Homo sapiens: one gene and its partner. The protein of the gene in region 1 interacts with the protein of each later gene in a biochemical or structural test. Each region holds a gene or a part of one and is shown on either strand. Other genes may lie near its edges.

Region 1 (3,854 bases):
AATGCCTTTCTTTGTCTAGGAAGTGGACCTCTACAGAATGAACAGCCAGGACAAGCTGGGCCTCACTGTGTGCTACCGGACGGACGATGAAGACGACATTGGGATTTATATCAGTGAGGTACAAAGGCTGATTTTGTTTTTCTAACTATCGTATCAAGACCAAAAGGGTTTTTTTTTTCATGTTCACCAACCCTAACCCACCTCATCAAGATCTCTTTGGAAAGACACAAATTATTCTGTCCCCCTCATCACACTCCATGGCGCTGCATCTTTCCACGGAGGTTAAGTTCTAATGCCAGTACTTATGGCAAAATTACCCTTGAGAAGCCTGCAAATCAGCCATAAAATGGAGCCGTTTACATGGTTTTGTGTGTTTAGCCCCAAGGGAAGAGCAGATTCACATTTCCCAACTCGTGTTCATTGAGTGGAATGGTGGATGGAATCACTTACACTTTTTAAAGCCTCTCTCTCTCTCTCTCTCACACACACACACACACACATTTTTTTTTCTCTTGGTGGAGTATATATAGTTGACTTCATATAAGTTAAATGTGACTTGTATGTACTTATCAAACTACATAGATGCACGCTGTTTTGATCTTCCTTGAGAAGATAATACAAATCAACTGATTTCAGTATGGAAACTTTACAGTGCACACCCATCCTTGCAAACACAGAAACCCAATTTTGTCAGGAAATAAAATTTGTCGCTACAGAATGATCTACTAGACTTAATAATTATCTCTTTGGTTGTATGTCATTCACCAAGCTTAAGTTAACCCATCCTTTCTGCATTTGGGGACATCCCTCCCCTTACCAGTCCCCCTTGTCCCAATTATATTTCAATTTTAAAGTTATTTTCCAAATTTTAATACAAGTATTTGGTATAAAATAAGGTATAGTTGCTAGTCCACATAATGAAGGGTATCCTTTAACCTGTTCTACATCATTGATTTGATTTTAATTACCATGCATGCAACAAAAGTCAGCTGTGCCTCCTCAGATCAGCAGAGCCTGCACACACTGCTGTGTAACAGGGTTGCTACACAGGGATCCAAGAACCAGCCCTAGAAAGGGCTTAGAAGCAGATCAGCTCATGTTTGCCTCTCCTTGCACGACACTAAGTCTTGTTTATTTCTGTGCAAAACAGAAACACAGGGGTGAGCATGACTGTGTTTTAGAAATGGTTTTGAAAGTGCTGTTGCTTATTTTCATGCATGTCTGCGTTTGCGCTGAGATGGTCCATGTGTGTTTCAGATTGACCCTAACAGCATTGCAGCCAAGGATGGGCGCATCCGAGAAGGAGACCGCATTATCCAGGTAAGTCCACTTCCAAACAATGGCCTCATGATGGGCCTATCACTAAAGAACAAACTGGTTCTAATGATAGGTCTAGGGTTGAAAATGCAGAAGCGGTTAAAGAACAGGGATCACAAACGCAGATGTGTAGTGAGGCCAGACAAGTTAAACTAATTGTGAGGCTATCTCTGAGTCATAAGACGCAAGAGGGAGTGGTGAGGACTGGGACAAACTAGATGGGGCATGTTCTCTCCAAAGAGGGCCTTGCAAAATTTGAGCCAGTTCTCCTTATTTTGTTTCATTCTGTTTGGATCAAAACAAACATCAGTGAGCCAAAGTCAGGCCAACAGTTTACAACTTGTGAACTAAAATAATTCTCGTTTTAGATTTCTCTGAAAGATTAACTTTGGACCAAGCATTTCAGAGGCTCGTCCATAAAAGGGGAACATTTTTGGCAAATTTAGCAGCATCGATTGAAAAGTCTTAGAAATTTTCTGACTCAACATCTAACCATCCTGGAATCGCTTCTAAGGGTCATTACTTGACCTCGAGCCCTGTTGCTCCGTCTAGTCCAAATGAGACCATTCATGTCTCTTTTGGCTACAACCTTCTTTAATCTCACAGAATTGAAATTCTTGGCTTCATTGTGTCCACAAGGCTTAGCTTTCTACCTCTTCTCATCCGTATCCTCTCATTCTTAATCCACTGTGTTTTTCTCATTGCATACCTCACCACAGGTCATTTTGATTTTCTTCTTCCACTGCCTACTCTGGGTTTCTCTAGCCTTCAGCCAGAACCTGTGCTGCTCAGGATCGCTTGCCCTAGGGAAGTGACCCAAACCTTCACACCTGAAGGGTCAGGGTCCTCAGCATACTGCCTCTTTTTTTTTTTTTTTTTTTTTTTTTTGATTGCTGGAGTTTTCCATTAACCTTTACTACTGAGAATGGAAGCACTCAGAGGTACTCCAAGGAATCCCCTAGGTTCCAGACACAATCCTCCCTGCCTCCACTGTGTCACAGCAAGCCCATCTTCCTTGGTAATTGAGGGCAATCACTCCAACCAATAGAGTCACCCCTTTTGCTGCCTGTTGGCTCACTAGTGTAAGGAGGCATATGGAAGCCTCCACTTCCAATTCAGTGGAACCATTGCTGTGTCCCCTGGAGGCGGCGTTCCACCAGGACTAAGACCTCCAGACCAGCAGGGCTCAAAGTCACCAGGACATGCAAGCAAAAATCCTGCAAGAGGGTTAATCAAGTGTGATAGTGAGAGTGTCACGCCCACTTGACCCTCCGCCTGGCCCAAAGAAGTTTAAGTGTCAAACTGGGGACACAAAACACCATGTATAATTCTATTCCATTTTCTTAACCTCAGTTTGCTGCTTTTTCTTCTATATTATCCAATAATGTCTACATATACTCCTGCCTGAATATTATGTCTAATTGCTTCCATGTTCCCTCTGCAGAGCATTATGATTTTTCTCAGTGCCGTCTTCTGGAGGTCCAGCCCCTTCTGTTCACACCCCACACATCACAGTCACCTCATGAACTATACTCATGGAGGCTCCCTTATAGACCAGAGAAACTGCATTGGTCTGAGCAAGACCTTTCCTTCCTAACATCAGTATTCTTTTCCAGCTACACGGAAGTTGTATGTTCTAACTGTGAGTGGGTGACAAATGCAGGTCTGAAATAAAATAGAATGATTTTGCACCATCTAATCATGCTATTTGTCTCCCCACTCTCCCCACCCCCCCTTTTTTTTTAAAAGATTAATGGGATAGAGGTGCAGAACCGTGAAGAGGCTGTGGCTCTTCTAACCAGTGAAGAAAATAAAAACTTTTCATTGCTGATTGCAAGGCCTGAACTCCAGGTAAATTGGCTTCCTACAGATGAAACTGGGTCTATATTTCTAAAATCAAAAGATCCCCAGGCCTGCAAAAGAGCACCTGAGTATTGGCTGCGAACTTGAAGGTGCTTTGTTCCCTGGAAATGTAATCAAACTTGCTGTGATTCAGAATTCACTTTATGAGTTAGCCATTTAAGGTTGGTTAGATGCCCACCCTGGCATCTATACTGCAGGCCCACGACGTTCATTAATGCAGGGATCATAGGGAAGGAAAAGGAAACAGAATTGAATGGAAAACACAACCGGGGTCACGTCAAGACATTTGACTTCCCAAGGCCTGACATATGTTCCAGCCTTGATCTGTGCAGGTTTCATTTACAATAGCAGAGTATGGGGAATTAAAACTTGCTCTTTCAAATTAAAAGAAACATTGAATGATAAATAATTAAAACTGATATGACCACCGAATAAGTGCTAGGCCCTCCGTGGAGCACTTTACACACAGGAGAGCCTTCCCAGGAGATGGAAGTTCCCAGAGATTCAAAAGTTACCCAGGAAAGGCCCAGAAGGAGGGTGATAAAGCAGGGAGGGGTTCAGGCCCAAGTAATCTGATTCAGAAACCTCTGTGTTGTAATAACTCCTTCCACAGGAGGAATCATGAACTCACCCAGGTGGCACTCTTGATCCACTTAGAATGGCTCCAGCAACAC
Region 2 (2,551 bases), on another chromosome or scaffold:
GACAATGGTTATCTTTGGAAGTTGGGTTTAAGGGGATTATTACTTTCTCCATCATTTATTTCTGTAATGTTTATTTGATAATATTAAGGAATTCCCAATTTTTAAAATGCAAAAACGTCATTGTGGTTATGTTTAAAAGTTCTCACAGGATATTCTTACTGAAATATTCATGGGCTAAGCACTATGATGTCTGGGACTTGCTTGTAAATCATACAGTGGGAGAGGAGGTGGGTAGAAATACAGAAAATAAGATTAGACATGAATCGGTAGGTAATGAGTCCACATGAATTCATACGATTGTGTCTACTTTTGTTTGAAAGATTTGTGATAAAAGATTAATAAAAATGGTAGGAGATAAACTTGGCAAAGTAGACTGGGGACTAAACATAAAGAACCGTGAGTATAAGGAAGGTTTATTCTCCAGTTCAGTGCTCTCCAGATTTCAGTGAATGCAACCCTACCTGCGACAATATTGTCACATGCATGCACCAGGCATATGCTTATTTATTCATTCATTCATTTATTTATTTAAAATTATGTACATGTACCATTGTACTATTATGCCATTATAAAACATACACAAACATAAAAAAGCTAGATAAAAATAAGCACAAGTATTGTTCTAATATGTTCTTCCTACACTCTATGGACCTGGACCCCAGTTAGGAGCCCCATGCTTAGTGAATGTGGGGGCCCCTTGAGGTTTTCTGAATAGCAAAGAGTTTATTTATAAGAAACAGAAACTTACTGGCGCAGTAATGGGAGGTTGATTAGAAGGACCCAGAGCTACTTCCCTGAGGCTTCTCAAAGAACTCCAATGGACTGGGAAGTTGTTCTAACTAGATACGTAACTTGAACAAGGATGGCCACTTCCTTGTACACTTCTTTTACATATATGCAATACACATAATGTGTTCTGCACACAGTCAGGATACAATATGCATATAAAACAAACATTCCCCCACATATTATCTTGGGCAATATATTTAACACAACGATTATGATGATAATAATAGCTAACATTAATTGAATACTTACTCTCTGCCAGGTATTGTGGTAAGAACTTTACATACACATTTTTACTCAAAACTCATGACAACCCTATGGAAATCGATCTTATAATTGATTTTCATTTTATTATGAGGAAATTGAGACTAGAAAAAGTAGCTTTCCCAACATAAAAGGGCTAGAAAATGGCAGAGTCAAAATTTTAATCAAGATGTTTCTGACCCCAAACCCCATATCCGTAAGAACTCATCCATATTGCCTCCAGAGAGAATAGTGTCCAAACCAGCAGATTGTTGTGATGATTAAATGAGATAATATAGTTAATATGCTTAGCACACTGTCTGACATAGGGCACACATCCTATTAATAGGTTAGGATTTTAGTACACAGAATGATATTTACTAAGATTTTCCACAGTAAACACCACTAATATCTCTCAATATCAAAACACCAATATTTATAATTATAATTGTAATGAAATAATGTTTTATTATTTAGTTAAACATTATTTATAATAACACACACCTAAACTCCTTTCCTTTGCTGCCATCCATAACCACGTGCGGCTTTTGTTGTTGAGTCCCTGTGGAATGGCTGACTAGAGAGAGATTGCAATTGTGGACTGTGTTATGACTCCTTCTCAGCAGGCTACAAAAGTAGAAATATTTGCACCTGGTGTACTCCCATCATGTTCTTAAGGAGCCACCTGTCTAAGTAGGAGTGCATGTAACTTGAGCACTGAATGACCCAGGAAATACATATATACATATCGATTTTATTTTATGACTGCAGGGTACTTTTAGAGATGTGACAGTCCTGGAAAGTTCTTTGCATTCCATTGGTTTCACTTGAACTGGTCAAATATACCACTTCCATTTCTTTCTTTTTTTTTTCAGATTTCATATTTTTATCAGCCAATCCAGATTAAGTATTTATTTAATAAATACTTAACTATTTACTCATGGCTCCCATGATTACAGTAGCCATCTCTCCCTGATTTTCTGGAACATCCAAGATTTGAGATTTTGTCCCAGTACTACGCTATAATTCCAAATTTGACTGGCAGCCTTAGCCTCTGTAGAGGCGGTGATGCATGAAGCCCTATGCTGAGAGCTGTGATCTGAGATGAGACTCACAGGTGCTGGTGTGTGGTCTGGTCTACATTACTGAATCTGTACTTAATTTTGATGATCATTAAATGTTCCTTTTTTTAAGTTTGCAAATACTTTACTAAATGTCCTATCACTCTAAAGGGAATTTTAAGTTTCGTAGTTGAGTTGGGATGAGGGGAAGATAATGTCTTTGGTTTGCAGATTTTTGACATTTAGTCAAAGCAGATCTTTCCATCAAATAATTAATTTTGGTATTATTAATTCCATACATTTTATGTAATGAGATATTCTATAACTCTAGGTGTTACCTAGGAAACTGCCCATCATCCCCTCTGTTCTTCTCCCCGGGAAGTTTTTTAAATGCTAGAACCACTGTGAAGAGCATTTGTGCTGACACAGTAGAATCCATCCCCACCAATTTGTAGCCCCAG

Evidence for each region. Proteins that work in one complex are often made in the same cells at the same time.
Region 2: the proteins of PDZRN3 (region 1) and FRMPD4 interact in a test that uses a peptide from one of them, tested with the Homo sapiens proteins (one large-scale study listed by IntAct).

The regions. Positions count from the first base shown.
Region 1 is NC_000003.12:73,387,282-73,391,135, reverse strand, and holds part of PDZRN3 (E3 ubiquitin-protein ligase PDZRN3), read left to right. Parts: intron 1-19; coding exon 20-118; intron 119-1,257; coding exon 1,258-1,320; intron 1,321-3,066; coding exon 3,067-3,168; intron 3,169-3,854. UniProt on the Homo sapiens protein: E3 ubiquitin-protein ligase. Plays an important role in regulating the surface level of MUSK on myotubes. Mediates the ubiquitination of MUSK, promoting its endocytosis and lysosomal degradation. Might contribute to terminal myogenic differentiation.
Region 2 is NC_000023.11:12,722,473-12,725,023, reverse strand, and holds the end of FRMPD4 (FERM and PDZ domain-containing protein 4), read right to left. Parts: 3' UTR 501-2,551; downstream 1-500. UniProt on the Homo sapiens protein: Positive regulator of dendritic spine morphogenesis and density. Required for the maintenance of excitatory synaptic transmission. Binds phosphatidylinositol 4,5-bisphosphate.